Linked DNA regions of Homo sapiens. The protein of the gene in region 2 purifies or fractionates together with the protein of the main gene of each other region. This does not show direct contact. Each region holds a gene or a part of one and is shown on either strand. Other genes may lie near its edges.

Region 1 (3,621 bases), on a different chromosome or scaffold from region 2:
GTCTCAGGTGCGTTTTTCTTTGTCAGTTGAAATGATCCTCTGGATTTTCTTTCCTTCATTCTATTAATGTATATTTAATTGATTGATTTTCTTATGTTGAACCATCCTTGCATTCCTAGGATAAGTACCACTTGGTCATGTTGTATAAGCCTTTTCATATGTTCAATTTGTTTTTTAGTATTTTATTCAGGATTTTTGCATCTATATTCATAAATTGGTTTATTTTCTTGTGATGTATTTGTCTGGCTTTGGTGTCAGGGTAATGCTTGCCTCATAGAACAAGTTAAAAAATATTTCCTCTTCTAACGTTTGAAAGAGTTGGAGAAAGATTGAGGTAAATTCCACTTTAAATATTTGCTAGAATTCACCAGTGAGGTCATCTAGTCCTAGACATTTTCTTTGTTGGGAGGTTTTTGAGTTCTGACTCGATCTGTTATTACAGATCTGTTCAGATTTTCCATTACTTCTTGAGTCAGGTTTGGTCATATATGTATGTTTCTGGGATTTTGTCCATTTTCTCTATGTTATCTAATTTGTAGGGATCGTACAGTTCTGTAACCTGATTTTTTTCCTCAGCAATGTACATTGATAGATTTCTTACTAAAGGTGGTGACTGTGTATGCTTGGGTAGCACTAGACTGTTTCCAGAGTCCTGTCACCTGCATTATCTTGTCTAATCCTCTTTAGAGTCCTGTGAGGAAGCCGAGGCAGGGATTATTCTAGATGCAGAAATCCAGGCTTAGGGAAGTCACTCAGCTAGTGGTGAACACTTAGTTATCCAGACTTCTGGACCTGTGCTCCTGTGCCATGCTGTACAAGAAGAAACTGAGAAATTAATACTGGTACAATGCCATCAGCTAAACTACAGACATTATTTGGATTTTCCACGTTTTCTCACTGATATCCTTTTTCTGTTCCATGATACCAGTTTGTATTTAGTCATCATGTCTCCTTAGTCTCCTCCAGTGTGTGACAGTGTTTTGGGCTTTCCCTGTCTTTCATGACCTTGACACTTTGGAAATTTTTAGCCGCAGAAGAAACAAGGCAAAAGCAATCATTTTTCTCACCATAACAATGGCTTCTCACACCGGACTTTCTCCCGAGGCTGTGGCAGTAATCAAGGAGAGATGCTGGGACCTGGAGACCCGTGTAGGAAGGCCTTGGCCGAGTACATTATCACTGTTGCCATTGGAGTTAAGTCCCCTGAGGGGCTCCCAGACTTCCAAGTTAACAGCTTTCAGAGCTGCAGACTCAGTTAAAGATTCAATGTGGGGAAAATTGGAAAACAGGGAACAGACCTGGTGATCTGACGATAATGATACTTTCTACTTCTTCTTCCCAAAGTGGTATTTCATTTTATTATTTTAGTCACAAACGCAACACATATTGACTACAGAACAATCAGAAGGTAGGTAAGCAGAGAAAAAAAGCATGTAAACACCCATAACCCAGTATATGGATGCTTTTTCAAATATACGTGTATGTCTAAATTTATATATACATATTTTTCTTATAAAAATGTAATCACATCATACTTTTTAAAGGAAAACTTCTATTTTCCTTTAATATATGATGAGCATGTTCCTGTTCTTCTACGAAGATAAACTTCTGCATCATCGTTTTTAACAGTGTCTGGAGTTTCCGTCGCCTACTGTTAGACAGTCTGGCTGTTTCCAGCTTTTCCCTGTCTTGAACAAGCACCATAACAAACAACATTGAACTCATTACATCTTTAATTACTTTCTTAGGATAACTATGTTCTTCCTTTTCATCATAGATATTCTTACTGATTCTCCGGGCTCTGCAGCTCTTGACCCGGCTGGTATTGTCTCTACAGCCAATTCCTCTGAAGTCAGCAACAGCAAAGGTGAGGTGCGCAGGGCTGCCAGAGAAGAGGAGCAATTGACAGGAAATTGTCACACTTAAAAAAATTGATCATTATTATATTTTTTAAGAGCTGGTATTCACGGAGTGTGGGTTCTTTCGAGCCTTGCACATACCCTGTGTTAGGGAAGACTTGGGCATGTGAGTGGGTATCTAGCAGCCTGAACTTCACGTGTGCAGAGTGGCCTGTGAGAGGCCTCGGCCCAGTGCTGCTTTTGTTCTGTTCTGTAAATTGTGTGGAATGGTGCCTGTCCTTGCTTGCTCCGTGGAGTGCTGATGAGTGAAGCACTGTGGATTTTGAGGTGGTCTGGGTTAGCTTCAAGAAGCTAAATGCTGTACTCATTGGGGTATTGGCATTGTCTGAAGCCTGATGGTCTAGAAGCTGATTTTCATAATATCTGTATTCTTAAAACTACAGCTGTATTAAGTCCATAAGTATTTGTTTGCAAAATGCGTATGTCCAAGGTGGGTAGTAGTACTGCTGAGGAAACTGAAACTCGGAGGTTAAGTAATTTACCTAATTTACGTAACCAATAAGAGTTAGAACTGGAATTCAGACCCATGTTTGGCTGTCCAAATCCCATGTTCTTTTCTCTTTACAGTTAGGGTGAAAAGAATTATACTGTGGCCTTATCTAAGATGCTACAGATTTTAGCCAATACATACATACAACCCTGAAGGATAGCTGGTTGATCACTGTCTGAGCTGGGGACATCTTGATGTATTGGTTCTCTAGCTGGTGACTTAACCCTATTAGATTACAGGATTTCTATCATATCATTAGCAAAAGAGGGGGGAGAAAAAAAAGCAAAATTTCTTATTCTGTTTAAGGGAAAGAAACCTTCCAAGGAAAGATTGACTGCGGATCCAGGAGGCTCCTCAGAAACTTCCAGCCAAGTTCTAGAAAACCACACCAAACCAAAGACCAGCAAAGGAACCAAACAAGAGGAAACCTTTGCTAAGGGCACCTGCAGGCCAAGTGCCAAAGGGAAGAGGAACAAGGGAGGCAGAAAGAAACGGAGCAAGCCCTCCTCCAGCGAGGAAGATGAGGGCCCAGGAGACAAGCAGGAGAAGGCAACCCAGCGACGTCCGCATGGCCGGGAGCGGCGGGTGGCCTCCAGGGTGTCTTATAAAGAGGAGAGTGGGAGTGATGAGGCTGGCAGCGGCTCTGATTTTGAGCTCTCCAGTGGAGAAGCCTCTGATCCCTCTGATGAGGATTCCGAACCTGGCCCTCCAAAGCAGAGGAAAGCCCCCGCTCCTCAGAGGACAAAGGCTGGGTCCAAGAGTGCCTCCAGGACCCATCGTGGGAGCCATCGTAAGGACCCAAGCTTGCCAGCGGCATCCTCAAGCTCTTCAAGCAGTAAAAGAGGCAAGAAAATGTGCAGCGATGGTGAGAAGGCAGAAAAAAGAAGCATAGCTGGTATAGACCAGTGGCTAGAGGTGTTCTGTGAGCAGGAGGAAAAGTGGGTATGTGTAGACTGTGTGCACGGTGTGGTGGGCCAGCCTCTGACCTGTTACAAGTACGCCACCAAGCCCATGACCTATGTGGTGGGCATTGACAGTGACGGCTGGGTCCGAGATGTCACACAGAGGTACGACCCAGTCTGGATGACAGTGACCCGCAAGTGCCGGGTTGATGCTGAGTGGTGGGCCGAGACCTTGAGACCATACCAGAGCCCATTTATGGACAGGGAGAAGAAAGAAGACTTGGAGGTAAGGCCTTGGCTGCCAGGGGCT
Region 2 (3,621 bases):
GCATGGAAGCTCAGTATCCCTTCCCATAGCTTACCCTATGCATCTCCTCATCTGTATCCTTTGTCATATCCCTTATAACAAACCAGTTCTAGGAGCTGCTCTAGCAAATTAATAGAGCCCAAGGAAAGGGCCATGGGATCCCTGGTTTACATCCAGTGGTTCAGAAGCACAGGTAAAACAACTTGGGGCTTGCAATTGCCATCAGAAGTGGGGGGAAATCTTGGGAACTGAGCCCTCAACATGTGGGAGCTGATGCTATCTCCAGATAGATGGTGTCAGAATTAAATTGAATTAGAGGACACCCAGTTGATGTCTGCTGTAAAAGTGACCGCTTGCTTGTTGGTAGGGAGAAATAACCACATATTCAATCACAGGAGTCTTCTGTGTTGACTGCTGTATTTTTGTCCACTCAAAATATACATATGAAAAGTGATTTACCTCACATCTATTAGAATGATCAAAATTTAAAACACTGATAACACCAAATGTTGATAAGGATGTCCAGTGACAAGAACTGTCACTCATTGCTGGTGGGAATGCAAATAGTACAGCCACTCTGGAAGACAGTTTGGCGGTTTCTTACAACACTAAACATACTATTACTATACAACTTTACTATCCAATCCAGCAACTGTGCTCCTTAGTATCTACCTAAATGAGTTGAAGACCTACGTTCACACAAAAATCTGCACCCAAATGTTTGTAGTTGTATTATCCATGATCACTAAAACTTGAAAGCAACCAAGATGACCTTTAGTAGGTGAATGGATAAACCGACAATGGAATATTATTCATCACTAAAAAGAAATGAGCTATCAAGCCATGAAAAGACTTGGAGGAACCTTAAATACATATTACTAAGTGAAACCTGAAAAGGTTATGTACTGTATGACTCCAACTCTATGACATTCTGAAAAAGGCAAAACCATGGAGAAAGTAAAAGAATTCAGTAGTTGCCAGGGGTCCTGGGGAGCCTCTGGGGGATGAATAGGCAGAGCACAGAAAATTTTAGGGCAGTGGAACAACTCTGTGTTATACTGCAATGGTAGATAAATGTCATTATACATTTGTCAAAACCCATAAGATGTACAATACCAAGAGTTAACCCCAGTGTAAACCATGAACTTTGGGTGATAATGACATGTCAATGTGGATTCATCAATTCCAACAAACATACCATACTGTGTAGAATGTTGATAGTCGGGGAAGCTGTACATGTAAGAGGGCAGAGAGTATATGGGAACTCTCTGTACTTTCCACTCAGTTTTGCTGTGAACCTAAAACTCCTCCATAAAATAAAGTCTATTTTAAAAACTAATATATTAAAAAACAATGTTTGTAAAAGTTAAACGGGATCATTGACATAATGTGATCATCCCACAAGCCTGGTCAACACCTACCCAATTATCCAACACACCATATCTTAGAGCCTTAAACCACGCAAGCCCTTCCTTACACCACCCACTCCACCTACCAAAATTCTAACTGTCCCAACACACCACAGTCAAACTCAACATGCTACCAAGTTCATGAAGCTTTCTTTCCCTGATCCCACCTCTTAACTTCAGGTTCCTTCTTATACCTCTCTGTACCCTGTGACATCATTCTGTCTAGCTTGAGGACTAAGCTCTGATTATTATTTTTTTTTATCTTGCCCAAATTCCTTTCTAAGGGGTCTGGGGAGTCATGCCCTACAAACCATAAATTCTCATCAGATGAGTTTTATTTAACCCTGTATAACGTGACTTACTTTCCAGTCTGACTCAGGCATAACAAGGAAGAAAATCAAAATGTTTTACCCTAAAATATATTTCTTTGCCATACCTTGGAACTGTCCTGCAAAGTCTCTTGTGGGAAAAACCCACATTCTATAGAGAATTCCCTTTCCCCTTTGTTTTCCTTCCTTCCTTTCCAGATCCAGGAGATAATCAATTAAGAGCCAGGCACTCTTTCAGGTCTCATAAGAAACATTTTACAACCTGCTATCTCTGAAGTCCGCTATCTGAGAGCTCTGCAAAATAAAACTTCGTCTCCACAATCCTTTATCTTAACCTGAACATTTCCTTTGATCTTAGGTCTTGAGATAAACTCAACTAATTGTCAACCAGAAAATGTTTAAATTTACCTATAGCCTGGAAGCCCCTGCTTTGGGTTGTCCTGCCTTTCTGAACCAAACCAATGTATTTCTTAAATGTATTTGATTGATGTCTCATGCCTCCCTAAAATATATAAAAACCAAGCTGTACCCTGACCATCTTGGGAACATGCTCTCAGGACCTCCTGAGGGCTGTGTCACGGGCCATGGTCACTCATATTTGGCTCAGAATAAATCTCTTGAAATATTTTATAGAATTTAACTCTTCATCAACAGACTCATGGTATTTAACCAAAACTTTTAATAAAAATGTGACCTTTTAAAAATCAGTGATTATATCTAAAAATTCAAATTTCTTACTATTCTTAAAAAAACAATATGACACTGTTACCAACTGGGAATAGGGGAAAGTAGCAGGGATTGCATAGAGACCCTCTCCTTGTGGCCTTCCCAACACTGAGGCAGAACTGTTGTCATTTATCACTGTCCCTGTGTTGTTTTTCTTCTTCCCTCCCACTTCGCTTACTCCAAGTGTCAGCCTGGCGCCAGTCCCCATGTGAGGTTGTAGCCTTATTTAGTTACTAATACTTGTTTATTTGTCTCTTAACCCTACAAAACTATAAGTTTCTTGAGAGCAAAGACTTGTTTCTCATTCACCTTTATTTCTCCTATACTCCCTCCCATCCAACCATAGTATATATTTATCAGCTATTTCCTGAATTTAGCGAATTATCAATCAACAAAACAGGAAAAATGTTAAAACTTAATTCATTATGAATGCTACTCAAGATTTAGCAGTTGGTAGGACTGCATCTTTACTATATTTAAATTCACTTCAAAACTCAATGATAACCCTTTTTCATATCTAAGTCACAATTAGGCTCTTTTTGAGGGTAGAGTGAATGAGAGGCTGAGATGCCGAAATGGAAGGAAGAAATCACGTGTTAAAGGCCTACTGTGTGCTAGGCACTGGTTGTAGGCTAAATAATAAAATGAGGGAAGGGCAAATCTAGAAATAAAAGAAACGTAAGGGAAGAAACCTATGTTGGAGCAGGTAGGAACAGCATTCCAGGACAGCCAGGATTCTGCAACAAGCAGTTAAAAGTATAGAGCTGCCAGGTCAGGGGATGGTTACTTTGTGTAAACTTTGTAGAACATTTACAACATTCTTAGAAGTGGTGAACTGATGCCACCTGAAGAGTCTATACTGAAGCCTATGACCTTCCCTGTTCCCCCAACTGAGGACTCTTCTCCTTTTAATCAAAGCAGTCAATTTAATTACATCTACATTGAGAAAGTATCACTAGATATCTTTTGCTATCTTGTTTCCTAGGAGGAAAATAGATCATAAAGAAATGTGTCATATAATCCCTGCTGTCAAAACAAAATAAGAAAAATCTGAAATCAGAAATAGTAGATTTCATTTAAGAGTGTAACAGCTTTAATTAAAACCCATAAAGCAAATACTTTGGCCTAACAGTGCTTGACATGTCGTACTGTAAAACCCTTTTAAATTAAATTTCTTA

The links.
Region 1: the proteins of APLF (region 2) and XPC purify together in Homo sapiens (affinity purification with mass spectrometry; 3 studies listed by BioGRID and IntAct, with this or other methods). This does not show direct contact.

What each region holds. Positions count from the first base shown.
Region 1 is NC_000003.12:14,157,987-14,161,607, reverse strand, and holds part of XPC (DNA repair protein complementing XP-C cells), read left to right. Parts: intron 1-1,777; coding exon 1,778-1,867; intron 1,868-2,715; coding exon 2,716-3,597; intron 3,598-3,621. UniProt on the Homo sapiens protein: Involved in global genome nucleotide excision repair (GG-NER) by acting as damage sensing and DNA-binding factor component of the XPC complex. Has only a low DNA repair activity by itself which is stimulated by RAD23B and RAD23A.
Region 2 is NC_000002.12:68,470,539-68,474,159, reverse strand, and holds part of APLF (aprataxin and PNK-like factor), read right to left. Parts: intron 1-3,621. UniProt on the Homo sapiens protein: Histone chaperone involved in single-strand and double-strand DNA break repair.